7 linked regions of the Homo sapiens genome follow. Changing the gene in region 1 together with any one later gene gives a genetic interaction. Each region holds a gene or a part of one and is shown in the gene's direction. Other genes may lie near its edges.

What was found.
Region 2: changes in SCYL1 (region 1) and METAP2 together harm fitness more than expected from each alone (negative genetic interaction), as found in Homo sapiens cells (one large-scale study listed by BioGRID).
Region 3: changes in SCYL1 (region 1) and COPE together harm fitness more than expected from each alone (negative genetic interaction), as found in Homo sapiens cells (one large-scale study listed by BioGRID).
Region 4: changes in SCYL1 (region 1) and WDR7 together harm fitness more than expected from each alone (negative genetic interaction), as found in Homo sapiens cells (one large-scale study listed by BioGRID).
Region 5: changes in SCYL1 (region 1) and PSMD1 together harm fitness more than expected from each alone (negative genetic interaction), as found in Homo sapiens cells (one large-scale study listed by BioGRID).
Region 6: changes in SCYL1 (region 1) and TRPM7 together harm fitness more than expected from each alone (negative genetic interaction), as found in Homo sapiens cells (one large-scale study listed by BioGRID).
Region 7: changes in SCYL1 (region 1) and SF3B1 together harm fitness more than expected from each alone (negative genetic interaction), as found in Homo sapiens cells (one large-scale study listed by BioGRID).

The regions. Positions count from the first base shown.
Region 1 is NC_000011.10:65,527,490-65,531,717, forward strand, and holds part of SCYL1 (N-terminal kinase-like protein), read left to right. Parts: intron 1-3,139; coding exon 3,140-3,298; intron 3,299-4,086; coding exon 4,087-4,194; intron 4,195-4,228. UniProt on the Homo sapiens protein: Regulates COPI-mediated retrograde protein traffic at the interface between the Golgi apparatus and the endoplasmic reticulum. Involved in the maintenance of the Golgi apparatus morphology.
Region 2 is NC_000012.12:95,504,568-95,508,795, forward strand, and holds part of METAP2 (methionine aminopeptidase 2), read left to right. Parts: intron 1-4,228. UniProt on the Homo sapiens protein: Cotranslationally removes the N-terminal methionine from nascent proteins. The N-terminal methionine is often cleaved when the second residue in the primary sequence is small and uncharged (Met-Ala-, Cys, Gly, Pro, Ser, Thr, or Val).
Region 3 is NC_000019.10:18,909,069-18,913,296, reverse strand, and holds part of COPE (coatomer subunit epsilon), read left to right. Parts: intron 1-250; coding exon 251-313; intron 314-2,225; coding exon 2,226-2,326; intron 2,327-4,228. UniProt on the Homo sapiens protein: The coatomer is a cytosolic protein complex that binds to dilysine motifs and reversibly associates with Golgi non-clathrin-coated vesicles, which further mediate biosynthetic protein transport from the ER, via the Golgi up to the trans Golgi network.
Region 4 is NC_000018.10:56,657,549-56,661,776, forward strand, and holds part of WDR7 (WD repeat-containing protein 7), read left to right. Parts: intron 1-4,228.
Region 5 is NC_000002.12:231,069,912-231,074,139, forward strand, and holds part of PSMD1 (26S proteasome non-ATPase regulatory subunit 1), read left to right. Parts: intron 1-113; coding exon 114-257; intron 258-2,277; coding exon 2,278-2,504; intron 2,505-4,228. UniProt on the Homo sapiens protein: Component of the 26S proteasome, a multiprotein complex involved in the ATP-dependent degradation of ubiquitinated proteins.
Region 6 is NC_000015.10:50,588,947-50,593,174, reverse strand, and holds part of TRPM7 (transient receptor potential cation channel subfamily M member 7), read left to right. Parts: intron 1-548; coding exon 549-1,264; intron 1,265-3,518; coding exon 3,519-3,583; intron 3,584-4,228. UniProt on the Homo sapiens protein: Bifunctional protein that combines an ion channel with an intrinsic kinase domain, enabling it to modulate cellular functions either by conducting ions through the pore or by phosphorylating downstream proteins via its kinase domain.
Region 7 is NC_000002.12:197,403,463-197,407,690, reverse strand, and holds part of SF3B1 (splicing factor 3B subunit 1), read left to right. Parts: intron 1-2,218; coding exon 2,219-2,416; intron 2,417-2,513; coding exon 2,514-2,615; intron 2,616-2,836; exon of another isoform or gene 2,837-2,973; intron 2,974-3,926; coding exon 3,927-4,106; intron 4,107-4,228. UniProt on the Homo sapiens protein: Component of the 17S U2 SnRNP complex of the spliceosome, a large ribonucleoprotein complex that removes introns from transcribed pre-mRNAs.

The DNA.
Region 1 (4,228 bases):
GCACTTTGGGAGGCTGAGGTGGGTGGATCACCTGAGGTCAGGAATTCGACACCAGCCTGACCAACATGGAGAAACCCCATCTCTACTAAAAATACAAAAAATCAGCTGGGCGGGCATCTGTAATCCCAGCTACTCCAGAGGCTGAGGTAGGAGAATCACTTGAACCCAGGAGACGGAGGTTGCAGTGAGCCGAGATCGTGCCACTGCACTCTAGCCCGGGCGACAGTGTGAGACTTCGTCTCAAAAAAAAAAAAAAAAAAAAGATGTTGAATTGGTATAATGCACATATTCCAAAATCCAAAAAACATCTGAAATCTGAAACACTTCTGGTCCCAAACATTTTGGACAAGGGAGACTCAACCTGTACCTACTTCAAAGGGACCCAGTGAGGAGTCAGAATTGAAAATGTGTGGTATAGTGTTCTGTGCCCAGCAGGCATTTAGGGCCAGCTCTGGTTACTCCAGTCACTCCACGTGTACATTCTGGCTCTGGTCCCCAGGGGTGTAACACCCTGTACTGGCTGCAGGGGGGTGGGCAGCACGGTGTGGAGGAAGGTGAGGCGGACCTAGATCACTGTCCTCAAGAATCTAGCAAAAAGTAAACAGACCAGATCCCCAACCTTGGGAACTCTTGCTGGGGAAGAGACAGAAAACATAAAAACCATAAATAAGAGCCAGGTGCAGTGGCTCACGCCTGTAATCCCAGCACTTTGGGAGGCTGAGGCGGGTGGATCACCTGAGGTCGGGAGTTCGATACCAGCTGACGACATGGAGAAACCCCATCTCTACTAAAAGTACAAAAATTAGCCGGGAGTGGTGGCACATGCCTGTAATCCCGGCTACTCAGGAAGGCTGGGGCAGGAAAATCGCTTGAACCTGGGAGGTGGAGGTTGCAGTGAGCCAAGATTGTGCCATTGCATTCTAGCCTGGGCAACAAGAGCAAATCTCCGTCTCAAAACAAACAAAAGAACACCATAAATAAGAAAACCAGCCAGTGCGGTGGCTCCCGCCTGTAAACCCAGCACTTTGGGAGGCCGGGGCTGGCGGATTATTTGAGGTCAGGAGTTTGAGACCAGCCTGACCAACATGGAGAAACCCCGTCTCTACTAAAAATACAAAAAACTAGCCAGGCATGGTGGCGCATACCTGTAATCCCAGCTACTCCAGAGGCTGAGGCGGGAGAATAGCTTGAACCTGGGAGGCAGGAGGTTGCAGTGAGCCGAGATCGCACCATTGCACTCCAGCCTGGGCAACAAGAGCAAAACTCAGTCTTAAAAAAAAAGAAAAGAAAAATCCAGTGCAGGAAGGAAAGTACTGGAGTGGGTATTCAGGGATGGGCTCTCTGAAGTGTGACATTGGAGCTGGGGCCTGAAGGACATGACTGTGGGAGCCAGAGGGATGGTACCTGGAGTAAGAGTTCCAGGCAGAGGCGACAGCACGTGGAGAGATACTGAGGAGGGAGCCCTCTGCTTTGCCTCTGAACCTTGGTTTCCACATGTGTATAGTGAGGAGCATCTGGGTGCACTGGCCTGCAGGGTTGCTGTAGGGAGGAGGGAGGAAGGCTCTGCTCTATGCAATGCCCGGCCCCAGCCGTGTGTGGGGAAGACAGCGGGGGCTGAGAATCAGAATCAGGAGCAGGGGAGGAGAGTGGCAGACACTCCACAGACCCTGACCCAGCAGAGGTCATGGAATCTTGACTCAGATGCTGTGGGGCGGGGAGGGCCTTTGGAGGGTGGAAACCTGGAAGGAGAAGCTGCTGGAAACGCTGAGACCCCGTTGCCTCCTGGGCAGTGTCGGGGCAGCAGGAACTTTGTTACGTGGAGTTCTCCTCGTACGGCTGGCTCTGCCAAGCTACCCTTCTCCTTAAAGTGTACCCCATAGGAAATAGGGTTTCGGGAGCCTCCAGGAGAACATGGGAGGGCAGTGCCCAGGGGCCCCTCTTCCCATTGTTAGGTGGAGTGGTGGGGAGAACCCAGCTGCTACTCTCTTGATGTATGACCTTGGATGTGATTTAGCCTCTCTGGGCCTTGGCCCCGCTGAACCATGTGATCAGAGCACCAAGCCGGCCTCCCACGCTGGTCTGAGCTGCTCAAGGGCCATCTAGGTCCTCTTTGTCCCAAGCCAGAGGTCGCCTCTCCCCGGCCAAGCCGCGGCTATGGGGGTGGTGGTACAACAGAGAGCACAGGGACTTTGGAACACAACACTGGGTCATGACCCCTGCCTGGCCACTCTTGGCTGCTGACCTTGACCCTCTGTCTCCTCCTTTGTGAATGGGGGGAGTGACAGCATCTTTTGAAGGGTACAGCACAGGAGAGGTGCCAAACCAGTGAGTCAGACCCTCCTCTGACCGCTTCTTAGCTGTGTGACTTTGGACAAGCTCCTTGCCCTCTCTGTGCCTCAGCTTCCTTGTTGGTAAAATGTGGATTACATTAGCACCTACCTGGTAAAGTTGTGAAGAGGACTGAGATAATCTGTGTAAAGGTTTTAGCACATAATCTGTGCTCCAGAAATATGAATTGGGGGTATTATGGCCTCAAAGGGGGGTTAGGAGGACTAAAGGAGACCGTTGAGCTTACAGGCTGGTCCATTTTGGCTCAGTGGGAGGATGAGGTCTGGGAGTAAAGTGTACCTAATCCTTGCCTTCCCACGGCCTACCAGGAACTTCCTGCCCAATCCAGCCAGGGCAGGGAAACCAAGTAAGCCCCTTCACCTCTTTGATCTTCAGTTTCCTCCTCTGTGCTCACATCCTGGGTGGCGAGCAGTAGAGGCAACACTGATAAAGGGCCTGATGCCCTTAGTGATGCCTCTGCTGTCCCTAGTGGCTGCTCTCCCAGCAACAGGTCAGGTAGCCGCAATGGCAGCAACAGTCCCTAACCCACCGAGCATCTGCCGTGTGCCAGCCTGTTCTGCAGCTTTTATGTGCATTTTCTGGTTGAATCCCAGAACTATCCCGTAGATGGTAGAGCTGTTATCCCATTTTACATGGCAGGTAAGTGGGACAGTTGGGCTTTGAACCCAGGCAGCCAGGCTCCAGAGCCCATAAGGCCCATAAGCATCACTTCTCCTTGTCCTCACCCATGGCTGGGTTTGGGCTGCAACCAGGCTGATCTCTTCCCCGGGTCCCGTCCTCACTCCCCCAGATCAAAGAGCCAGCCGAGAAGCAAAAATTCTTCCAGGAGCTGAGCAAGAGCCTGGACGCATTCCCTGAGGATTTCTGTCGGCACAAGGTGCTGCCCCAGCTGCTGACCGCCTTCGAGTTCGGCAATGCTGGGGCCGTTGTCCTCACGCCCCTCTTCAAGGTGAGTGGAACTGTGGGGTCCAGAAGGCTGGCTGGGTGCACAGGAACTGCCAAAGAGAAGGCCCTGGGGTAGGGCAGGCTGTTTAGGGCAGACCCAAGCCCATATGAGCAGGAGCTTCCTGCCAGTGTCTATAAACAGGTACCTGACCAGCTGTCCCCTGGGGAGGAGAGACTCTGCCGCTAAAATCCTTTTTTCCACAAACCTCTGGCTTCACAACCCTCAGCCCTTCCTCCATTTCTCCGGGTCTGACCTGTGCACCTTGGTTCCCAGGGCCCAGGGGATTACCTACTCACCACCCCACTTTGCCCTCCTCCCTCCTGACTGCTTAGCACTCAGCTCACCTGACTTCTGGGGGCTGGATCTTCCACCCTTTCCTCAGACCCCAGCCCGCCTTTTTATGGGCACCTGGCATTCCCTGCCCTCCTCACCTTGGGGAGAACCCTTTCATCTGAAAGACTTGTCAGGAGGGGAGAAGACAACAAGCAAGTCCTGTATAGCTGAGAACCCCCAGAAATTGCAGGCAGAATTTCTGCATATGGCATAAAGGTACCTGTTTGTAGGGAGGGGCCCAGAGCTTTCATCAGCCTCCTGAAAGAGGCCTTGGCCCAGAAAGGTTAAGGGCAAGGCTGAGATGGAATATGGGTAGAGGAGCTACTGAGGAAATGCCTGCCCCCCCCTCCGCCATCACTTCATTCCCACCCTGGGATATCAGCCCCAGGAATTTAGATAAGCCCAGCAAAGTCAGCCCATTCCTGTGAGCAGCTGAACCCATCTTCCTGCCCTTTCAGGTGGGCAAGTTCCTGAGCGCTGAGGAGTATCAGCAGAAGATCATCCCTGTGGTGGTCAAGATGTTCTCATCCACTGACCGGGCCATGCGCATCCGCCTCCTGCAGCAGGTGAGGCCTCTGTACCAGACTCTGTGGTGGTCCA
Region 2 (4,228 bases), on another chromosome or scaffold:
CTCACTGTAGTTTCAACCTCCCAGGCTTAGGCTTAAGCGATCCTCCCACCTTAGCCCTCCCGGGTAGTTGGGACTACAGGTGTGGGCCACCATGCCCGGCTGATTTTTAATTTTTTTGTAGAGACGAAGTCTCACTGTGTTGCTCAGTCTGATTTTGAACTACTGAGCTCAAGCGATCCTCCCACCTCAGCCTCCCAAAGTGCAGGGATAACAGGTGTGAGCCACTGCTCCTAGCCTGTGGTTTTTTGGAATCACATTCAGAATTTGGAGGCCAGTTCCTTCTGTATCACTTTAATTCCCAAGTTCCTTTGCCTTCTAGTCTTTACCAGTGACTACCTCAAGTATATACTCCCAGAGTCCCCTGTGCTTTCTGGTGCTGTACGTTAACCTCTGTCAGTCCAGTCCTCCTCTGGCTCCCAGGTCTGTCTGACCATCCCCCAGCCACCATCCTCCTCCCTCATCTGTGCTCATTATTCTCTGTGATCCTGCTGTAATAACTTCCTTATAGACTATTTTCTATATTTCCTTTAACAGAATTCTGTCTCTCTTTGTAGACTGTGAGTGGAGACTCTCATGTTGTTTTCTTGCCTCTTAGTAAATTCACACCATTCAGCATTCTTTGCATTTCCTGTTGCCCATTATGTGTTTCTACCAAGAGCAGAAGTGATTCTTCCTCTGGAACCTGACCGTGCCTTCTATATAGACAGTTACCACCAACGTAACAGTCCTCTTTCATGTCTAAATACTGAAATTTATTACCAGACTTAAACTTTTTTTTGAGACAGTCTCTCGCTCTGTTGCTCAGGCTGGGATGCAATGATGCAATCTCGGCTCACTGCAACCTTTGCCTCCTGGGTTCAAGCGATTCTGCCTCAGCCTCCTCATTAGCTGGGATTACAGGTGCCCACCACCACGCCCGGCCAAATTTTTTTTTTTGAGATGGAGTCTTGCTCTGTCACCCAGGCTGGAGTGCAGTGGCACGATCTCGGCTCACTGCAACCTTTGCCTCCCAGGTTCGAGCCATTCAAGCCATTCTCCTACCTCAGCCTCCTGAGTAGCTGAGATTACAGACGTGTGCCACCATAGTTGGCTGCTTTTTGTATTTTTAGTAGAGGCGGGGTTTTGTCATGTTGGCCAGGCTGGTCTCGAACTCCAGACCTCAGGTGATCCGCCCACCTCGGCCTCCCGAAGTGCTGGGATTACAGGCATGAGCCACCGTGCCCAACTCTTTTTTTAGACAGAGTCTGCCAGACGTGGTGGCTCACGCCTGTAATCCCAAAACTTTGGGAGGCCAAAGTGGGTGGGTCACCTGAGGTCAGGAGTTTGAGACCAGCCTGGCCAACATGGTAAAACCCCGTCTCTACTAAATACAAAAAAAAAATAGCCAGGCGTGATGGCACACACCTGTAATCTCAGCTACTCGGGAGGCTGAGGCAGGAGAATCACTTGAAGCCAGGAGGCAGAGGTTGCAGTGAGTCAAGATTGCACCATTGCACTCCAGCCTGGGCGACAGAGTGAGACTTCGTCTGGGGAAAAAAATAAAAAAGAGTCTTCCTCTGTTGTCCAGGCTGGAGTGCAGTGGCACGGTTGCAGCCCAACCCCCTTGCTCAAGCACTCGGTGGAGTGCGCTCAGCTTCCCGAGTAGCTGGGACTACAGATGTACAGTATCATACCTGGCTAATTTTTGTATTTTTTAAAAAATATTTATTTTTATTTCTAATATATATGCTTTTTTTTTTTTTTTTTTGAGACGCAATCTCACTCTGTCGCCCAGGCTAGAGTGCAGTGGCGCAATCTTGGTTCACGGCAACCTCCGCTTCCCGGGTTCAAGCGATTCTTCTGCCTCAGCCTCTCAAGTAGCTGGGATTACAGGCATGCGCCACTACACCCAGCTAATTTATTTTTGTATTTTTAGTAGAGACGGGGTTTCACTATATTTGCCAGGATGGTCTCAATCTCTTGACCTCATGATCCGCCCGCCTCGGCTTCCCACAGTGCTGGGATTACAGGCATGAGTCACCGTGCCCAGCCTATATATGTTTTTTGATATCAAGATATTCTTCCATTTCATTGTTCTTCAAGGTTTCATTTCCCTTCCTCCTGCCTAGACCCTGTGTTGGCAGCTTTAATTCTTCTCTCATCTATATCTTTAACTTCTTTGTTATTTGATTTTCAGATATTCTCTTTAAGATCTCTAATCCTGTGAACACAAGTGCAAAGCAGAATACTTATTTATTTATTTATTTATTTATTTATTTATTGAGACAGAGTCTTACTCGTTCTGTCACCCAGGCTGGAGAGCAGTGGTGCAGTCTTGGATCACTATAAGCTCAGCCTCCCGAGTAGTTGGGATTACGGGTGTGTGTCATCATGCTGGCTAATTTTTGGACTTTTTTTTTTAGTGGAGATGGGGCTTCATCATGTTGGCCAGATCAGGCGATCTGCCCACCTTGGCCTCCTAAAGTGCTGGGATTACAGGCGTGAGCCACTGTACCCGGCCCAGAATACTCTTGATGTTACTCACACTTAGGTAGGAGGTGTGGGATAATGAAGAAAACACACTTTGGGGTTCAGGCAGTTTTTACTTGGAGTCTTAGATAAATCTGTAACCTGAATACCCAAGTTTCTTGACTGTAGTAGGGTTAATGGTATCTAGTTTATTTTGAGAAATGTAAATTGTGTGATAGTGCCTGGAATTTATTAAGTATTCAACAAATATTTGTCATTCTGTCCCCTTCTCACCCCAATTCTGGGATTAGTGCCACAAATACAGTGCTTATTCAGGCTCTTCCAAATCGCTCTTCGCATCCAGGAAATTACTTACCTGATGAGAAAAATAGCCAAACAAGCCTAACACTCTTTAACATTTTTTCCACGTTGCATAAAGAACATGGCAAAATACCAGGATTGGCAAATGCCGGGATTTGCCCATCTTCTCCCTATTCTTATGTTTTTATCTCTGTTCTTCAAGGAAGAAATATTCTGTCTTCTATACAGTATTTTCTTTAAAATTTTTTTAAATTGTTAGCTCAAACACTGCGTTAAGGATCTTCTTTTCAGTGTTAATCCTCCACCTCCTTTGAGATACCACCTTATTACGCCTTTTCTCTACATACTCAGCCTTTCCCCTAGTGGCTCCTCTCAGTGTGAAAGCACATGTGGAGGAGAATAAAAATCATAGCATTAGATAACCTTCCATGATTCTCATGATTTTTTTTTTTTTTTTGAGAGAGACTTTTGCTCTTGTTGCCCAGGCTGGAGTACAATGGTGCGCGATCTCGGCTCATCACAACCTCCGCCTCCCAGGTTCAAGCAGTTCTCCTGCCTCAGCCTCCCGAGTAGCTGGGATTACATGCGCCACCACGCCCAGCAATTTTTTTTTTTTTTTTTTTTTTAGTAGATGTGGTGTTTCTCCATGTTGGTCAGGCGGTCTTGAACTCCCAACCTTAGGTGATCTGCCTGCCTCGGCCTCCCAAAGTCTGGGATTACAGGCGTGAGGCACCGCACCCAGCCGATTCACATATTCTACTTTTGGCTTTTACTTACTGTTATGTGAAATTTTTACAATTTATTTTTACATTAAGACATGATTTAAATTTACTATGTTCCTTAGTAAGGGTAAACATACTTTTCTTTGTATCCTAGCCAAAGCCATAAGGAAAGCAAAAGATTTTTAAAGGCTAGAATTTAGAAGATCTCATTTCCAGTGTGCTTTTCTTTGGAAAATGTTTTGTCCAGTTCTTTAAATAGCTTAGAACCAGTTTTAGGAGTTGCTGCTTCTATTAACACTTTATGAGCTCCCCAGAAGCAAGATTCTTAACCCAAAGAAAGCTGAGATTAAGAGCATAAATGCCAAGTTAATTTGAGGAATTTATGGGACTAGAACATGGGCCTTCTGATTTCTAGGTTCACTGCTACAAATGAACAGAATCTATTTCCAAATTCGTGAGTCTTATGTCAACTTGGAGTACACACTGTAGCAGTCTGCTTGGGGGACTACCTCTAGAGTTAGTTATTTCTCTTTTTTGAGAATTTGCTGAAATTTTTGTAAATTCCAACACTAGCCAACATATACCAATGTCTTCTCTTTTTCCTTTCATTTTCTCCTAATTCTACAACTTGTTTGGTATGTGGTCTGCCTTTCAAGGTATGGTAGGTGACAGTTTGACTTAATGTTTTAGTCACTGCATAATAATTCCAGCCTGCAACATCGGGATTTTTAATATCT
Region 3 (4,228 bases), on another chromosome or scaffold:
ACACTGAACTTGGGAGCAAGCCTCCTTCCTGGGGTGGTGTCAGCGCGGGATGAGATCAGGCACCCCCCGTGTAGGGTACCCCCAGCAGAGGCCACTCGGGCTACGGAGGATCAGGGCTGGGACTCAGACCTCCAACCCTGCCGGAGAAGCCACCTGTCCCCAGTGTACAGGGGCCTGTCTGTCATGCTCACCCTGTGTGGGCTGCGCTGGGCCTCCCACTGTGCGTCCTGACTCACATTGGTTCCCACAGCTATCAAGCCCAGAGAGAGACGTGGAGAGGGACGTCTTCCTGTATAGAGCGTACCTGGCGCAGGTGAGTGCGGGCCTTGGCCGGGGGCAAGAGTGATGAACAGAGTAGAGGGTGGGGCTGGGGACAGGAAGGCACCACAGAGTGGGTGGCGGGGACAGTAAACAAAGCAGGGACCCAGGCCTGCAGTGTTCAGTGACTGTGAACAGCCAGCGCAGCCAGCATGTGAAGGTGGCTGTGTCACGGAGGCCTGAGACTGCCAGGCCAGGGGGCCTGGGTCACAGCTTCTTGATTTTTTTTTTTTTTTTTTTGAGACGGAGTCTCACTCTGTCGTACTCGATCTCAGCTCACTGCAACCTCCGTCTCCTGGGTTCAAGTGATTCTCCTGTCTCAGCCTCCCAAGTAGCTGGGACTACAGGCGTGCGCCACCACGCCTGGCTAATTTTTATATTTTTAATAAACACGTGGTTTCACCACATTAGCCAGGGTGGTCTTGAACTCCTGACTTCATGATCCACCTGCCTCAGCCTCCCAAAGTGCTGAGATTACAGGCGTGAGCCAACGCGCCCAGCCGATTTTTTTTTTTTTCCTAAAATAATTGGTAGGAGCCAGGCACAGTGGCTCACACCTGTAATCTTTGGGAGGCTGAGGTGGGAGGATCACTTGAAGCCAGGAGTTCAAGACCAGCCTGGGCAACATAGTGAGACCCCCGTCTCTACAAAAAAAAATTAAAAAATAAGACAGTCATGGTGGCATGTGCCTGGAGTCCCAGCTAATTGGGAGGCTGTGGCAGGAGGATCAGTTGAGCCCAGGAGGTCAAGATTACAGTGAGCCGTGATCACGCCATTGCACTCCAGCCTGGACAACATAGCAAGACCTTGTCTCTAAAAAAATAAGAATGGGGGCTGGGCCCGGTGGTTCACGCCTGTAATCCCAGCACTTTGGGAGGCCAAGGCGGGCAGATCACCTGAGGTCAGGAGTTCGAGACCAGCCTCAACATGGAGAAACCCTGTCTCTACTAAAAATACAGAATTAGCCAGGTGTGGTGGTGCATGCCTGTAATCCCAGCTACTTGGGAGGCTGAGGCAGGAGAATTACTTGAACCTGGGAGGCAGAGGTTTCGGTGAGCTGAGGTCACAGCATTACACTCCAGCCTGGGCACCAAGAGCGAAACTCCATCTCAAAAAAAAAAAAAAAAGGCCGGGCGTGGTGGCTCACACCTGTAATCCCAGCATTTTGGGAGGCCAAGGTGGGTGGATCACAAGGTCAGGAGATTGAGACCATCCTGGCTAACACAGTGAAACCCCGTCTCTACTAAAAATACAAAAAAATTAGCCGGGCGTGGTGGCGGGCGCCTGTAGTCTCAGCTACTCGGGAGGCTGAGGCAGGAGAATGGTGTGAACCTGGGAGGTGGAGCTTGCAGTGAGCCGAGATCACGCCACTGCACTCCAGCCTGGGCGACAGAGCGAGACTCCGTCTCGAAAAAAAAAAAAATGGGGAAGGAACCATCTAGGAGGGAACACAATGAGGGACGGGCCCCCAGCTGCAGATGTGACAGTGGTATCAGTCTGGGCATCCTCAGAGGGCCAGTAGGTGGGCAGGGCTGGCTGGGGGCATGTCCTGCTTTATAGAAGCGCATGTCACAACCCCCATAACTGCTGCTGCCCTGCCCCCAGGTGACACGCCCTTCACCTCACCACCAGAGGTGGACAGCTGCCAGGGGATAGACAGTAACCTACCAGGGTCCCTAGCTCAAGGCATGGGCAGTGTGGCCCTGCAGATGAGGGCACACCTGGCTGCTCACGACAGGTGACGCCATGCCACCCTCCACAGTGTACTGCAGTGGAGGTGGCCCATGCTGGGCTGAGGGGTCCCTGGTGGGGCAGGGACTTCCTGTCTGGGGCTCTCCCTGCCAAGCTGAAGACATGGAAATCCTCTGGGGTGGACGGGTGCAGCTGACGCCTCGTCCCTACTGCAGAGGAAGTTCGGTGTGGTCCTGGATGAGATCAAGCCCTCCTCGGCCCCTGAGCTCCAGGCCGTGCGCATGTTTGCTGACTACCTCGCCCACGAGAGTCGGAGGTGAGGCCCCAGAGAATGGGTTGGCCTGAGGCGCGGGGCCATCTTCAAGGCCTGTTGGTTATGAACCTGGGTGGGTGGGGGCATGGCGTGCAGCGCACAGCATCCCTCAGATTAGGCGCCTCTCCCCTCTGCTCCCCTGCTGCTTTGTGCCTCAGTTTCCCTCACCTGCACAGCAGTGGGGGGCTGGTGATGGATCCTGCTTCAAAGGGGAGGGTCAGAGACAGTGCTGTGTGTGCACACGCCCTCATGGACCACAAGGCACTCTCTGAACCTAGAACTGAAAATATCAATTACCGAGCAGCCCTCTGCAACACCCAGAGCCCCAAGACAGCCCAGGGCGCAGCGGGGGCAGGGCCCTCCCATCAGTTTTCTTATTTATTTATTTAGAGATGGAGTCTCACTCTGTCACCAGGCTGGAGTTGCAGTGGTGAGATCTCGGCTCACTGCAACCTCTGCCTCCTGGGTTCAAGTGATTCTTGTGCCTCAGCCTCCTGAGTAGCTACGACTATAGCTGCGTGCCACCACGTCCAGCTAATTTTTGTATTTTAGCAGAGACTGGGTTTCACCGTGTTGCCCAGGGTGGTCTCGAACTCCTGAGCTCAGGCGGTCTGCCCACCTCAGCCTCCCAAATCCTATCAGTTTTCTAGTCCCAGCTAGTTGGGGACTGCAACCTGCCAGTATCTCCCCTGGAGCCCAGTGGGAGGGTGGGTGAGGCCACGCCTGTCCTGCCCCTGAGCCACAGGCCAGCGTTGGTCAAACGCCCATGGGCGGCAGCCAAGGGGAGAGGGGGCTGGGCTGTGGGGACCCAGGAACCTTGCCCCCTCCTGCTGTGGGGTCGGAGTGAGGGTCTGGCATGGGGAGACTGCTGTGATCCTGCTCTTCCTTGGCCCACGGAGGCAGTGTCCCAACTACCGCCTCCCTTCACTCAAAGAAACCTGGGGTTCCTGGGAGCTGACTCCTGTGCAGAGGCAGCATGGTGGGGTGAATGGTGTCCCCCAAAAGGTACGTCCATATCCTATCCCACATGCTTGTGAATATGATATCATTTGGAAAAAGGGTCTTTGCCGATCAGATTAAGAGATAAGGAGATGAAGACATGCTGGATTTAGGGTGGGCCCCAAAGCCAAGGACTTGTGTCCTTTTAAGAGATAAAAGGAGGGCTGGGTGCAGTGGCTCATACTTGTAATCCCAGCACTTTGGGAGGACGAGGTGGGCAGATCACCTGAGGTCAGGAGTTTTCAAGACCAGCCTGGCCAACGTGGTGAAACCCCATTTCTATTAAAAATACAGAATTAACAGGATGTGATGTCTGTGATTCCAGCTACTTGGGAGGCTGAGGCAGGAGAATCGCTTGAACCTGGCAGGCAGAGGTTGCAGTGAGCCAAGATCGCACTAGTGCACTCCAGCCTGGGTGACAGCGGGAGACTGTCTTAAAAAAAAAAAAAAAAAAAGGAAAGAGGCCCACAGAGTTAAGCCCATGTGACAACAGACTGGAGTGACATGTCTGCTAGCCAAGGAGCACCACGAGTGGCCAGCAGCCACCAGAGCTGGGAGAGAGGCCTGGGACGGCCTTGCCCTCCAGCCTCCAGCTGGAGCCAGCCCTGCCGCCACCTTGACTTCAGACTTACGGCCTCCAGAGCTGTGAGGAACGAATCCCTGTTGTCCTTAACTGCCCGGGCTGTGGTGCTTTGCCACAGCAGCTCCAGGACATTGAGACAGGTGACCTCCCAGGGCCACTGTTTCTCCCACCCTGCACTTACTTCACCAGCTGGAGTGAAGGCAGGGAACCCTGGGTCCCCCAGGAGCAGCAGCTGCTGTGAGCATCACAGAAAAGCAGCCCCGGAGAGCAGGCGGTCCAGGCAGGGGCTTGTGGTCCGTTCATCTGGCTGCACAGCCGCGACC
Region 4 (4,228 bases), on another chromosome or scaffold:
GCCATTGATCATAGGCAAAATCAGCTGAGAGCTATGGATAGCTCAGTGAAATTCTGCCATCAATAAGAGGACATGTTCTCACTGACAGGTACTATGATAGTAATGTTAACTTACAATTTGAATTCCATCCATATGGTTCGTTTGTCTTTGTCTGTATCTGATTCTTAAAGCTGCTTTGCTGAATACAAAAGAACACAAACAATTATGTTGGAAGAAGAAATCCTACATCATGACTGCATTCAGAAAGTCCTTGTGAGTCCAAGGAAATTTTTACTTCCTTTCTATTAAGGAACATATATATTACATTCATGAAGTATTTACTATTTTAAATAAAATTGGATTTTTTTTCAAACTATGTTGGTGACGTTTAATGAAATTACAGGGGTTTTTTTTTTTGGCTGTTGATTACTTGAGTTAGTGGGAGCCATAAAATGTTGGAACAACGAATGTTAGGGCACTGGTCAGTTTAGGGGAGGGAAGATTTCTGAAGTGCTAAGCGTTATTCTGTAGGCTCTTTAAAATATAACATTTCTGGAGATATGTGACTTTGTTTTTTTGTTTTGTTTTGTTTTTGACACAGAATCTCGCTCTGTCGCCCAGGCTAGAGTGCAGTGGTATGATCTCGGCTCACTGCAACCTCTGCCTCCCCGGTTCAAGCAATTTTTCTGCCTCAGCCTCCCAAGTAGCTGGGATTACAGGTGTGCACCACCACACCCAACTAATTTTTGTATTTTTATTAGAGACAGGGTTTCACCATGTTGGCCTGGCTGGTCTCAAACTCCTGACCTCAAGTGATCTGCCTGCCTCGGCCTCCCAAAGTACTGGAATTAGTCATGAGCCACTGCGCCCAGCCTGGAAATACATGACTTTGAAAATGCAGTCTCCCATTCAGCTTAGCAGTTGTAATTTATGACCCTACAAGCTCACTGAAGATAGTTTTTTGCACATCATGTTTCTCTCTGAATGTTGGTAGTTGGTATATGTCAGTGATAACAGACTGATAGAGTGAGCCAGTTACCTTCTGTTTTCACATTCAAGTTTATTTCACATTTAAGCTATCTTCCTTAAAGGCTCTTCTTTTTTCTAAATGTTTCAAATACAAATAAACAGTATAAACTTCCATTAGTTGGAGCAAAAAATTCACACGAATGAAATATCACTGTACTTACTTACTTTTTTTTAACGACAGAGTCTCACTCTGTTGCTCAGACTGGAGTGCAGTGGCATGATCTTGGCTCACTGCAACCTCCACTTCCTGGGTTCAAGCGATTCTCCTGCCCCAGCCTCCTGAGTAGCTGGGACTACAGGCGTGCACCACTGTGCCCAGCTAATTTTTGTATTTTTTTTTTAGTAGAGATGGGGTTTCACCATGTTGGCCAGGCTGGTCTTGAACTCCTGATCTTGTGATCTGCCAGCTTTGGCCTCCCAAAGTGCTGGGATTATAGGCTTGAGCCACCGCGCCCGGCCCCCTGTACTTACTTTTAAGAAACAGTGTTGTGATTAATTACTAGGCCTTAGTGACTGTAGTAGTGATTATGTCAGCTAATTTGCTTCATAGGCCCTAAGATATATTTTGCTGTGTATATGTCACGATAGACTAAAAGAGGCAGGAGCGTAGGTAAAACCTGTAGCTGGGGAAAAAAACAATATGTTAATGACATTTTGATTAAGGAGGCTTGTATTAATTGTTGACATTATTATAGAAGAACTAGTTGACAAGAAACTGCCCTGTGAAATCCAAAACATATAAAATCGGGATATACTTTAATTTGCTGATGGGTGCAACTTTACTTAAACCAACGCAAACATATTTCATTCACTAGTTTGTTTATTTATTCAAGTATTTGGATTCCTTCTATGTGGAAGGAATTTTAGGCACTGGGAATACAATAGAGAAGAAACCAAACACAGATCTTTACCATCATAGAACATACACCAGGAGAGGCAGATGATAAATAAATAAAACATATGGTATGTTAAATGATTGTAAGTGTTTAGTTTGAGTGGTAGATTTTGCAATTTATGATGGTCAGGAAACTCTTCACTAAAAAGGTAATATTTTATAGAGATTTGAAGAGGGCAAAGGAGTGTGCCAGAAGGAATCTGGGGTGGGGGACACTGTTCTGAGGTAAGATTCTGTTTAGTATCTTTGAGCAACACCAATGAATCAGAGCAGATGGAAAAGAGTAAGCAAGGGAGAGAACAACCACCTCACTCATATAGGATAGGCAGTTGTATGTAGAGTTGGCTTTTGCTATGTGTGAGACAGGAAGCCATTGGAAGATTTTGAGATGTGATCACAGCATGATTTTTTTTTTTAATAGTGTCACTCTATATGCTGTGTTGAGACTGCAGGGGAGCAAAGATGGAAACAGGGAGACCAGTTAGAGGGCTGTTGTGTTATCCCTGATGGAAGATGCTGATTGAGAATAGGGTGGTTGTAGTGAAAGTGTTGAGATGTTGCAGGATTCTGGATATGATTTGAAGGTATAGCCAGTGGAGTTTACTGATGGATTGGGATGTGGAATGTGTATGTGTGAGAGAGTAATAGAGTAACTAAAGATGATTCTAGGATTTTGGTCTGTGTAGCTATAAAACTGGAGTTGCCAATAACTAAGATGGGTAGACTGTGGGAGGGGCACCATTGAGGAATGATCAGGGGCTCACTTTTGGACATGCCAAGTTTGAGAAACTTATTAGCTATCCAAAAGGAGATGTTGAGTAGGAAGCTGGACATACTGATTTGGATTTCAGAAAAGCATCCCACACAATAAACTGGGGAACTGTCAAAATCTGCAATCCAAAATGCTCCAAAATCCAAAACTCTTGAGCATAAACATGACACTCCAAAGAAATGCTCATTGGAGCATTTTGCATTTTAGATTTTTCAGATTAGAGATGCTCAACCTGTAAGTATAATACAAATATCCCCAAATTTGAAAAAAATCCAAAATCTAAAACACTTCTGATCCCAAGTGTTTCAGATAAAGGATACTCAACCTATAGATGGTTTAAAGCAATGAGGCTTGATGAGATCATTGAGGGAGGGAGTGTTGCCAGAGAAGAGAAGTCTAAGGACTAAGTTGTGGGAATGCCAATATTTAAAGGTTAAAAAAAAAAAAAAAGAAAGAAAAGAAAGAAAGGAGACTAAAGCTAGAGAAGAAGAAGGAAAGTCAGGAAAAAGTGAAGACTTTGAGGCCAGGTAAAGAAGTATTTATTTCAAAGACGGAATATGAACTATGTCAAATTGCTGGTAGGTCAAGTAAGATAAGGGTTAGAACTTGATAATGGATTTAACAGTGGGGAGGTCATTGGTGACCTTGTCAAGGGCAGTTTTTGTGACAGGCAGAGCAGGAGGAGGGTAATGTTACAAATGAGAAGTTTAACTTGAGACATCACATATTTCCTCAGAGTTTAAAATGGAAATGGAGAGCTGGGTTCCTCTCTAGTTAGTGTGACTTTCATACCTTCACAGTTGCCCATCTTATTTTAGTGATTCCAAGACTAATGTGACAATTCAGCTTCAAATTTGGGGAAGCATGTTTGTTTCTTCTTTTTCTGTTTAATTCAATTTATATACAACGAGAAAGTTCAGTGCTCAGTTTAGACTTTTGATGGCAACCTAAGGGAAGAAATTGGAATGACTGGAGATGCAAATGAGATTAGAGGTGGGTGGCAGGAGAAAGTCGAAGTTGGTTCAACCAAATGGAATTTCCTTTAAAAAGTAAGGTCTTGGTGGGCATAATGGGCTTTTAGCTTAATCAGTAACTCTTGAAATTGCTGTAGGTTGGTGATGGATACAGCATAAGCAGAAGAGTTCATTCATTATAATATCACCTGCAGAAATTTAAAACATGATTTATATGCCTCAGCATCTATGAATCACTTTTAAAATGTGATTTATTTTTGACCAGATAGTTCTGCAGTTCTTCAAAATCTGTCTCTCATGCACTCAGGGCTGTTTAGCAATAAGAAATAAGTGTAGTCTCCTGTTGCCATCTGCTCATTCCACATGTTCCTTTGAAACCGAACACTGGGGCTTCCTTTAACCAAGCAGTCCTAAAGTGTCAGGCTCATTGAGAGTACAGTATATTTCTTAACCACCCAAATAAGAAAGTATAATCTTGTCAGCTGCTTAAGTGTTCAGAAGGTTGTGTCCCTTACAGCCCTTAAATTCTGGAAACACTTTGTTATAAGGAAGCAGCCGAGTAGTTTCTTTAGTGTGTTT
Region 5 (4,228 bases), on another chromosome or scaffold:
ATAATTGGCTTCCTAGATTGGCTAAAGAAGCAAGATTAAAATAATTCAATTTCTAAATAAATATAATGCTGCAATAACCAGATAACGTTATATCTTTAAACTATCTCTTTCAGAATGATGTCCCAGGAATGTTAGCTTATAGCCTTAAGCTCTGCATGTCTTTAATGCAGAATAAACAGTTTCGGAATAAAGTACTAAGAGTTCTAGTTAAAATCTACATGAACTTGGAGAAACCTGATTTCATCAATGTTTGTCAGGTAATGACATTAAATTATGTTTCATTACATTGCTCCACGCTGTACTGTGCTATGCTATACCACTTCACATTTTATTACTTTATATTACTATAATGGCTTTATACATGTATCTCAGCTGATCTTCACAGCAGCCCTGTGAAAATAAGGTATGTGCTTTATATTCCTTTTTATTAATAAGAAACTAAATCTCACAACACTAAAAAGCTATTTTGTTGTAACACATTCTTTCTTTGTATTCTTTTTTCATTTTGAAAATCCAATAATTTAAGGAAATTTTTAGAAATAACGAAGGTTTTTTAAAAAGCTAGAAGATTAAAACAGTGCCTATGCTATACTATATCATTCTAAAGAGAATTCAAAGTGTATAAATTATATATGGTTTCATTACCCATACACACCAAAACATTTGGGTATCTTTTCTTTATCTCTTTCTATATATAAATTTGCTTGCACATAAAAAAAAATTCAGATGGTACAGAAAATATATAAAATGAAAAGTAAGGCTTCTCTTTCCCATCATTTGGGCTTTTTCCCAAAGGTAAGACATAGATGTTTTTCCCTACTTATTCACACATGTGGATCTACTGCATTCTTTTAATGACTGTATTGTATTTTATTGACTGGAGGTGTGCATGGGTTTACTTTTTAACAATTGCTATGTTGTATACATTTTTTGTATTCTGCTCAGGGCATAGCATTTTATTGCACATTTTATTGTTTCTTCATTAAAATGTGCTCCTGTGTATTTTAATCCTCTAGACTTTGAAAATTTAGATTAAAACACTGTTTTTTACAATCCCTTTTAAAGCAAGTTTGAAACAAAATACTAGAAGAAAAAATATCCATGTTTAAATCACCCAAAGTCAACTTACTATTCTAACTTGATTTTTTACATCACCCAAAGTCAATTTAGTATTTAATAGTGTATTTCCTTTCAGTTTTCTCTACATAGGTTTTCGGAGTTTTGTTGTTTGTAAATATTTTTCATAGTTTTTTTTAAAACTGACATGAAAAATAGTAGTTCCCTGCCCTCTTCCTGTCTGTATTTCAGTTTTATTCCTTAGAGGCAATTTTATTTCTTTCAGCTGTTTTATTCCTTATCTTTTTATTATTTTTAAAAACTTTATTGCTCATTTTTAAAATAATATATTTTTGAGCAGATAATATGTTCATGTGATTTAAAATTCAAAAAGAATGATGGGGTATACAATGAAGTCTTCCTATTACTTGGCTCCAGCTACCAAGTTCTTTTCTCTGTGGATAAACAGTGTTAATTGTATACAGTCTTTAACATTTTTCCATGTTCTAATTCTTCATAGAGTCCTCTTACTTGATTGTTGTAATCATTCAGTGTATGTACTTTGCCCTACTTAATCATTCCCCTATTGTTGACCACTTATTTTGTTTGTGTTATTTCGTGTTCTTAATTTATAATAACTTTGATTAATGTGTTTATTTTGAAGTTGAGTTACTTGCTGCCTAAGGGAACAAGAAAATTTAAATTGAGTTTTTAAAAGAAAAATTCTAACTTTGTTGGATAATTTTGTTAAAACAATGGCAGATCATAAGAGTAGTAAGAGAAATGCTTCAAAATGGTAATTTTAATGTCTCTTGTCCTGGCCCAACACAACACAATGTATGTTAAATGAATGAGTAACTTCCATAATATATGGTAAGGGAGAAAATAACAAATTAAGGAGCACTTAGGTATAACTTATGGATAAGATTTAAAGAAGCCAAGATTCATTCAACAACCAATGTTGAATACTGCTGATTACCAGGCACAGCATTAAGAGTTATAAATATAATTTGTATGAATTTTTTTATGGAAGACAGATGCCATGTTTAGAAAAATTTCATCTAGTGCTGGGTTTAGAAATAGAGTGCTAGACTGGATAGTCTGCCCTAGTTTGCCTGTGCTTATATTTTAAGGTTTTCTATAATGTTGATTTTGTCTCCTTAAGTACCTTGTAGATGAAGTTTTTAATTATTGAATAATTGTTCTTTATCTCCATTTCAGTGCTTAATTTTCTTAGATGATCCTCAGGCTGTGAGTGATATCTTAGAGAAACTGGTAAAGGAAGACAACCTCCTGATGGCATATCAGATTTGTTTTGATTTGTATGAAAGTGCTAGCCAGCAGTTTTTGTCATCTGTAATCCAGAATCTTCGAACTGTTGGCACCCCTATTGCTTCTGTGCCTGGATCCACTAATACGGGTACTGTTCCGGGATCAGAGAAAGACAGGTATAAGTACCTTTTTCTGCATCAAAACTAATTGAATAATCTTTATTTCATTTTGGGGACAGGTAGAATATTTATAGGAAGCATATTCTAAGAATAAATTTTGCCACTAGCTTTCATAGATTGTAAAGTCTTATTAGGCTGTTGCTCTGTTTTGTACTGTGCTGGGTGTAGTAAGGAAAACCGAAGAAATTGACCCTTCTGGAAAGAAATAGAAGTGATTATCTCGTAGGGAGGGCCTACCAGACAACATGTGTACTATTTAATCAAGTAAATTTAAAAAAACAGGTGGGGATAGGTTGGGGCTACCTTTTAGATATTTGGGTTAGATATATCTGGGTTAGATATTTAGAAAGTAAAGAACATTCTCAGCTTTTTATGCTTTTATTAGAACTAAATACACAAATTTCTATAGTATTAGAAATTTGCATTCTGTACAAATTGATATGGTATTAAAATTTTATTTTTCTGTATTTTACACGTTTAGATCACTTACTAAAAACATTTGTGTGTCTTAGTTGTGCCTGTATATGCCGGCAGCCCCCTAGCCCGCTCTTTCACTGGATATCTGTGTCTGAGAAATGTGGGACTCTCTCTTTCACTTAAGCACTCAGAGGCCATTGTAGGGTTATTAATTGGCCTAATTTCAATATTGTTGTGTCTCAGGGAATAGGGAGTCCCAAGGAGAAGGAGAGAGATGGGGGAATGACCGGTGTGTGGAGCAGTCAGAACACACACATTTATTGATTGAGTTTGCTGTTTTATATGGGTGTGGTTCGTGGTGTCCCAAAACAACTACAATGGTAACATCAAAGATCACTGATGACAGATTACCATAACAGATATAACGATAATTAAAAAGTTTTAAATATTGCAAGGATAACTAAAATGTAACACAAGGACAAAGTGATCACATACTATTGGAGAAGTGGCTCCAATAGACTTCCTTGAAGGGCAGTAAAACAAAGGTATGCCTATATTTTTCTTTATATCACTACCTCTTTCCTTATTACTAAAACTATGCTAAGTCTTGCAGTCAGGTATTGTAAGACCTACAATTTTGATTCTTTTTTCTTTTTCAAGATTCTTTGGGCTATTGTAGATTTTTTGCATTATATAAGTCTGTGGGTGTTCTGATTGGGATTGTATTGAATATCTTCAATTTGGGGCACATTGAAATCCCGATAATATTGAATCTTGTAATCCAGGAATATGGTGATCTTTTTCATTTACTTAGGTTTTTTATTTTTTTCTCAGTAGTGTTTTGTAGATTCAGTGCAGAGGTTTTACACATCTTTTCTTAAATTAATGTTCTTATATCCCTAAGTATAATTTGTTTTTTGATGCTGTTGTGAAGTGGTATTTTTAAATTTCTATTTTTTTTGTTGGTAGTATATAGAAATATAATTGATTTTTATATACTAACATTGAATCCTATGACCTTGATAAAATCATTTATAGCTTTATAAATGATTTTTTTAAGTAAATTTTTTAAAGTAGATCCTTTTACAGAATTCTGTTTATTGGCATCTTGGTCATCTGCAGTTAGAGAGCATTTTACTCCTTCTTTTGTAATCTTTATACCTTTTCCCTCTCTTTTTTTTCTATATTGGCTAGAATTCCCAATACTTACAGAAGTGATAAGAGGCAGTGAAAAAAATCTTTAATTTTTTTCAATCTTAGGGGGATAGAATTTTTTATTTATTTTCGAGACAGAGTCTCAGTCT
Region 6 (4,228 bases), on another chromosome or scaffold:
TAGGATTACCGGCGTGCACCACCACACCCAGCTGATTTTTATATTTTTAGTAGAGACAGGGTTTCAACATGTTGGCCAAGCTGGTCTCGAACTCCTGACCTCGTGATCTGCCCGCCTCAGCCTCCCAAAGTTCTGGGATTACAGACGTGAGCCACTGTGCCTGGCCAGCATTTCTTTTTTTCTGTTGGCTTCACTACATTCTGGAAGCATATGGTGTTTGGTAACAGTTACAGTAACAGTAATGGTAGTTCTGTATATATGTAGCTGTATATACATTATTTTGTGTTACTTTGATGTGGGGTAATTGGAATAAGTAGCCTGTGGAACAAAAACGTTTTTTGAAATCTTGCATTTTAATATAAGATTAGCACTGGATCCTTCTTAAACATAAGGTAGGCCTTGTATAATTAAATAACTGTACCTTATTTTATATCTTGTTTAAATGCATGTGAAATTTTTCTCTTTTTATCATTATTATTTGAGGCTACAAAATAAAATTCTACATTATTTTTTCACATTTGTAAAAAAAGCTTATTTCTCTCCTACAGAGTGGAACAGATGTGCATTCAGATTAAAGAAGTTGGAGATCGTGTCAACTACATAAAAAGATCATTACAATCATTAGATTCTCAAATTGGCCATTTGCAAGATCTTTCAGCCCTGACGGTAGATACATTAAAAACACTCACTGCCCAGAAAGCGTCGGAAGCTAGCAAAGTTCATAATGAAATCACACGAGAACTGAGCATTTCCAAACACTTGGCTCAAAACCTTATTGATGATGGTCCTGTAAGACCTTCTGTATGGAAAAAGCATGGTGTTGTAAATACACTTAGCTCCTCTCTTCCTCAAGGTGATCTTGAAAGTAATAATCCTTTTCATTGTAATATTTTAATGAAAGATGACAAAGATCCCCAGTGTAATATATTTGGTCAAGACTTACCTGCAGTACCCCAGAGAAAAGAATTTAATTTTCCAGAGGCTGGTTCCTCTTCTGGTGCCTTATTCCCAAGTGCTGTTTCCCCTCCAGAACTGCGACAGAGACTACATGGGGTAGAACTCTTAAAAATATTTAATAAAAATCAAAAATTAGGCAGTTCATCTACTAGCATACCACATCTGTCATCCCCACCAACCAAATTTTTTGTTAGTACACCATCTCAGCCAAGTTGCAAAAGCCACTTGGAAACTGGAACCAAAGATCAAGAAACTGTTTGCTCTAAAGCTACAGAAGGAGATAATACAGAATTTGGAGCATTTGTAGGTAAGTTTGGCAAATTCGTATTTGTATATCAATATTATTTACTTTTCACCTTAGAAATAATAGAAATATGTACTGTTACAAGTCATTATCTTTTCATAGAGTATAATTATAAAATTTTTAAAAAGAATCAGACACCTGTGATTCTGGTACTTTGGGAGGCTGAGTGGGGAGGATTGCTTGAGCCCAGGAGTTGAGGACCAGCCTGAGCAACATAGCAAGACCCCATCTCTACAAAAAATTTTTGGAAGTAGCCAGGCGCAGTGGCATGTGCCTGAAGTCCCAGCTACTCAGGAGGCTGAGGCAGGCGAACTGCTTGCACCCAGAAGCTGAAAGCTGCAGTGGGCTGTGATCACACAACTGCACCATAGCCTGTGTGACAGAATGAGACCCTGTCTCTAGAAATGAAATGAAAAAAAAAAAAAAATCAGAAGTAGGGGAAATAGACTGAATTAGGCTATAAGAGTTATATTGGCACATAACCTCTTTGATGGAATTTTAGGTTCTGTCTTTTGAATTTGAATATCTTCAATTGGGTTTCATCAACTCTTGTTGAAAACCTAAGTGATTCTTAAGTACTTGGAGAACCTCATAGGGGAGGTTAGAATCAACTGGAAAAGAACAGTGCCCTATAAATAGATGACCATATAATTTTTTTACCCAAACCAAGACACTTTAAAAGTGAAAGGGTGCACTATTAATAATTATATCAGAACAACAATGGAAATCTAGGAATCTACTGGGAAAATTAGTACTTATGGTGTACCTATTTATATATTCACAGAGAACATTTCAAAAAGGAATGACTTATTCTTATACCTATGATAGCTTAAATAAGATAAGAACAAAAAAAAATGTTTATTTTGGCAGTAACACATTAAAGACCTTAGTGAAAACTTTCATGCATAGAGATTATTCAGACAGTATGTTAATAAGCCCATGGAAAATTGCCACATTAAGGCCAGCCTAGGAAGTTATCTAGGCACTAAACATGTTGATATTACTTCTAGGCTATATGGGATTCACTCTAGATACATAGATATAACTTTTCCTACGTTAAATATATTCCCCCTTTTTTTTTTTTTTTTAAAAGACGGAGTCTCCCTCTGTCGCCCAGGCGGGAGTGCAGTGGCACAATCTCGGCTCGCTGCAACCTCTGCCTCCCAGATTCAAGTGATTCTCCTGCCTCAGCCTCCTGAGTAGCTGAGATTACAGGCACACGCCACCACACCTGGCTAATTTCCAATTTATTTTTAAAAATGCATTTTAGCCTATTTGTTAATGTATTACCAGTGGGGTGTATGTATATATCATATATATTTTCTCTACATGTATATTATATAGGAAAAGTTACATATCTGTATATCTAGAGTGAATTCCATATAGCCTAGCAGTAAGTATCAGCATGTTCAGTGCCTGAATAACTTGCTAGACTGGTCTTAATGTGGAGATTATACATGGGCTTATTAACATGTTGTCTGAACAATCTCTATGTGTGGAACAGTTTTCATTAAGGTCATTAAAGTGTTATTGCCAAAATATTTTTGTTCTGTTTTTGTTTAAGTTATAGGCATAAGAATAAATCATTCCTTTTTGAGTGATTATCCGTATATATGTAATGCTTTTTTTTTTATTAATAGTAAAAATGCTTGGTCCCCTTTTTTCTTTTAAATTTCGAGCTATTTATTCATATCACATGTTGGTTTGTTTTATAAGGACTTTGGCTTTTAACGTTACTGTAAACTTAACTATAATCTTGGCCAGGTGCGGTGGCTCAGGCCTGTAATCCCAGCACTTTGGGAGGCCAAGACAGGCAGATCTTGAGTTCAGGAGTTCAAGACCAGCCTGGCTAACATGGTGAAACCCTGTCTCTACTAAAAATACAAAAATTAGTCAGGCATGGTGGCACGTGCCTGTAGTCCCAGCTACTCAGGAGGCTGAGGCAGGAGAATTGCTTGAACCCGGGAGGCAGAGGTTGAAGTGAGCCAAGGTCACACCACTGCACTCCAGCCTGGGCAACAGAACGAGACTTGTTCTCAAATTTAAAAAAACAAAAAACAAAAAAAACTGTAACCTTCACCAGCTTCTTGGCAATTTTCAATTTTATTTATCAAAAGAGCTAAAGGAGACTGCAGAGCCATCAAGTGTACTTGAAAAACAGCATAAACCTATTGTTTTTATAAACTTTAAGCAGTGCCATTATTTCGGTGAAGAAAAATAAAAATTTCTCATTGCAACATCTTTTTTTCTATTAAAGGACACAGAGATAGCATGGATTTACAGAGGTTTAAAGAAACATCAAACAAGATAAAAATACTATCCGTAAGTAAATCCTTATTAAAACACCCACAGTTCTATTTATTTTACTGTCTTGATGTTTAGTTCAAAATTTAATTAAACATTTTTTCAGCAAAAATACAGTTTTAGCAGATATCATTAACATGCTGATACCAAATATTTGAAGCTGTCCTCAGTTTGAAAAAATGAACAATTGAGGAACATGAAAAGGTACAAACAGCTTGCGTAATTATACTCACTAAATAAAAAACATCAGCTATTTAACATTTCTCTCTTTTTTTTTTTTTTTTTTTTTTGAGACGGAGTCTCGCTGTCACCTGGGCTGGAGTACAGTGGTGTGATCTCCGCTTACTGCAACCTCCACCTCCCGGGTTCAAGTGATTCTCCTGCCTCAGCCTCTTGAGTAGCTGGGATTACAGGTGCGCATCACCATGCCTGGCTAATTTCTGTATTTTTAGTAGAGATGAGGTTTTACCATGTTGTCCAGGCTGGCCTCAAATTCCTGACCTCAAGCGATCCGCCTGCCTCGGCTTCCCAAGGTGCTGGGATTATAGGCGTGAGCCACTGTGCCCGGCCTACATTTCTTTTTTAAAAATTTCTTCTCCCCATATGTTTTCCACTGATTAAATACTTAATGAGCTCACTCTTCCCAGATCCAAAAGTTTTATT
Region 7 (4,228 bases), on another chromosome or scaffold:
TACTTGGTGCTTCACCAAGATTTTATATACTTAAGTTTATGGATTGTCAGTGGACACAAAGAATTTTTTTTTTTTTTTTTTTTTAAAAGATGGAGTCTCACTCTGTTGCCCAGGCTGAAGTGCAGTGGCGTGATTTCGGCTCATTGCAACCTCCGCCTCCCAGGTTTAAGCGATTCTCTTGCCTGAGTTTCCCAGGTACCTGGGATTACAGGTGTCCACCACCATGCCCGGCTCATCTTTGTATTTCTAGTAGAGACAGGGTTTCGCCATGCTGGCCAGGCTGATCTTGAACTCCTGACCTCAAGTGATCCGTCCCTCTCAGCCTCCCAAAGTGCTGGGATTACAGGCGTGAGTTACCGTGCCTGGCCTTTTTATCATATCAACCTAAAATTTATTTTGAACTATAAAATTTTCTAGGTACCTGGTACTCAGGGAGTATTTGTTAGTCTGAAGATAGTCTGTGGTCGTATAGCTGACATCATAACCAGGGGGAACCAGATAACTTTGTAAGTCATCTGATGGCCTTTACAGAGCTTTTTCTGTTAATGACTATTGATTTTTAACAGTTCATGAGTATGTTTTTTGTTGTTTTGTTTTGTTTTAGAGACAGGGTCTCACTGTGTTGCCCGTACTGGAGAGCAGTGGCGCTGACATAGCTCACTGCAGCCTTGGACTCCTGGGCTCAAGTGATCCTCCTGCCTCAGCCTCCTGAGTAGCTGGGGCTACAGGCATGCACTACCATACCTGGCTAATTTTTTTATTTTTTGTAGATACGGGAGTCTCACTGTGTTGCCAGGCTGGTCTCAAACTCCTAGGCTCAAAGTACCCACATTGGCCTCCCACACTGCTGGGGATTATAGGCATGAGCCACTGTGTCCAGCCTTGTTTTGTTTTTGATCCCCTGTTATTTGTGTTAGAGTATTTGTTTCAAGTTTGCATGAAGTTTTGCCTTAAAGCTTTTTGTAGCCTCCACATAATGCTGTGGGTATAGATAGAACTGTGGGTATAGATAGACAGAACTTACTGTTGACTGCCTGCATGTCTTTCTCAGTCGTAGTCATTGATTTCCTTAGTGTCACTAGGAGGAAAAGTCTCCCTTAGTGAATCCTACTAATAAGCAACGTCCTTACTAGTGAATATAAAAATATAGTAGACCTTTAAATCCTTAATGGCAAGTGATGCCTGTGGACTTGACATTGATTTCTCTAGGCCTCACATCTTTAGAGTATCCACTTTATCCAAAATGCTTAGTGGTCTGTGCTGGTGCAGACGTTAACTAGCAACAAAAAATATCTGTGCAAAGTACAGATAGCATCAATATAAATTTAACATAATTTAATCTTTAATAGACAAAACAATTTTAGGCTCACTGGAGAAGACGTGTATAGGTTTATTGACCTCTCCAAGAAGTTGTATTTTTTTTCTTTTACTATATATTAAATTATATAAAATAGAGATGGGGTCTTGCCATGTTGCCAAGGCTGGTCTCAAACTCCTGGGCTCAAGCGTTCCTCCCATCTCAGCCTCCCAAAGTGCTGTAATCCTGGCCTGTCCAGAAGTTGTTTTTTTTTTTTGAAGTCTGTTACCAGCTTTAAAAAAAAAAAAAAAAATTTCTTTGTGATTTTCAGCCTGCATTTTTTGAAATTTTACTCGTTTTGCAAAAGGTTTGATCAGGTGGTGTGTATTTTATAGGGCTTTGGCAAACATTTTGGTTTTAGTTTTTATGCATTTAACTAATTTTTGTAGAGTTTTACACTTAAAAGATTTTGTAGTGCAAGAATTTATGTGACATTTTAATACTAAAATATAATTTTTTATGTTTTATGCCCCATATGAGCTTATTTCCATTTTATATAAATCTTATGAAACATTATTTGCTCGACTACAGCATTTTTTGGAATTGCTGACTCAGATTTTATAATTTTCAAATTTTTAATAATTTGACATTTTGACCCACAACATGTTTGAATGTGATTAGTATTTTCTAAGCTCTTCTCTTGTGTTTCCTCAGTTCCCTACACCACGGATATAATCAGTTAGTGGATGAGAAGTATATATTTTAAGTTTCTAATTAAGATAGAAAAGCAAGATAGATGTTGTCTCCAAGCAAATAAAAACCTTATTAGCTAATAAACTAAAATATTTTAAGTGCAAATATTGTTCATTATGCTGTTTTTTAAGTTAAGAAAATCCTAAACTGTCTTATAACTTTTATTAGGTACTTCCTCCTCCAGCTGGTTATGTTCCTATTCGAACTCCAGCTCGAAAGCTGACAGCTACTCCAACACCTTTGGGTGGTATGACTGGTTTCCACATGCAAACTGAAGATCGAACTATGAAAAGTGTTAATGACCAGCCATCTGGAAATCTTCCATTTTTAAAACCTGATGATATTCAATACTTTGATAAACTATTGGTAAGTGATACTAGCAGAAATAAACTATTAATTGTGTTCCAGAATTATAAATCATAACATTTCAACTTCCCTTAACATTTTTTTCTTTTTACTATAGGTTGATGTTGATGAATCAACACTTAGTCCAGAAGAGCAAAAAGAGAGAAAAATAATGAAGTTGCTTTTAAAAATTAAGAATGGAACACCACCAATGAGAAAGGTAAGTCCCAGTTTGTTAAATTGTCATGTTTGTTGCTTATTTATTTAATTAAAAAAAATTTGTAGTTTTTGTAGAGACAGGGTTTTGCCATGTTGCCCAGGCTGGTCTCAAGTGATCCTCCTGCTTTGGCCTACCTCCCAAAGTGCTGGGATTACAGGTGTGAGGCTCTGCACCTGGCCATGTTTATATTTTTAAAAATGTTTTTAATTTTTTCACCAGGAAATGTAGACCACAAAATAGTAGTGAACTATTGGTATAGCCCGCTGTGGAGTGTGGTCTTTCCTTTACTCTCCCAAATAGCCCAAATTGGTAAAGGTTATTTAGAAAGCCTTCCCCATAAAAAATTAACTTTTGGTAGTGTTATATTTTTGTGTTTAGGAATTTATAATTACTGTCTTCATCTTTATCAAGGACATAGCATGAGGGGAAAAAATTTATGTAGTGTGAAGGATTTAACTTTTTTGCTTGTTTTTATTATTAATATTATATATATATTTTTGAGACAGGGTCTTGCTCTCTTGCCCAGGCTGGAGTGCAGTGGTGTAGTCTTGGCTCACTGCAACCTCCGCCTCTTGGGTTCAAGCAATTGTGCCTCAGCCTTCCAAGTAGCTGGGACTACAGGCGTGCACCACCACGCCCTGCTAATTTCTGTATTTTTAGTAGAAACGGGGTTTCACCATGTTGGCCAAGCTGGTCTTGAACTCCTGGCCTCAAATGATTAACCTGCCTCGGTCTCCCAAAGTGCTGGGATTACAGGTGTGAACCACCATGCCCAGCCGTTTGTTTTTATTATTATTTAAATACTCCTGGGCTCAAGAGATCCTCCTGCCTCAGTCTCCGAAAGTGTTGGGATTACAGGTGTGAGCCACCGTGCCCAGCTGGAGTTAGCACAAAATTCTTTGGTTAAAAAAGCTAATAAAAATGCTGAAAAATGAGATTCTCCTTTTTGTTCTTAAGGCCTTTAAAATATGCTTAAAGCTTGAAGATAATTAGTGAAATTATGTGAGGGATTATGTTAACACTATATGTGCCTTGGAAATGGAAGATACTTCAGGGAAATGAAGGCATTTAGTACATACCTCTGTGGTTCGTTCTATTAAATTACTCTTTTGAGTTAACATAAAATTTCTATCACAGGAATTGAAATTCCAGAGTAATTTGGATGGAAATGAACTCATGCTGTCTATGTAAAATGTGTGTAAAAGTAAACACTAAAATATTAAAGTATGGAAAATCTTCTTTGAGTAATTTGCTCATTCAAAATGTTTGATTATAAAGAAACCACACCTATTACTCTGCTCTTTTTCCCAGGCTGCATTGCGTCAGATTACTGATAAAGCTCGTGAATTTGGAGCTGGTCCTTTGTTTAATCAGATTCTTCCTCTGCTGATGTCTCCTACACTTGAGGATCAAGAGCGTCATTTACTTGTGAAAGTTATTGATAGGATACTGTACAAACTTGATGACTTAGTTCGTCCATATGTGCATAAGGTTTGTTCTCCTTAATAGTGTTTCTGATAGTTTAAAGTTTTAACTTTTTCAGTTAATCAATGTTAAATTTACATATTCTCCTAGACCTTTTCCTTTGCACAAGTACACACCATACATGTACA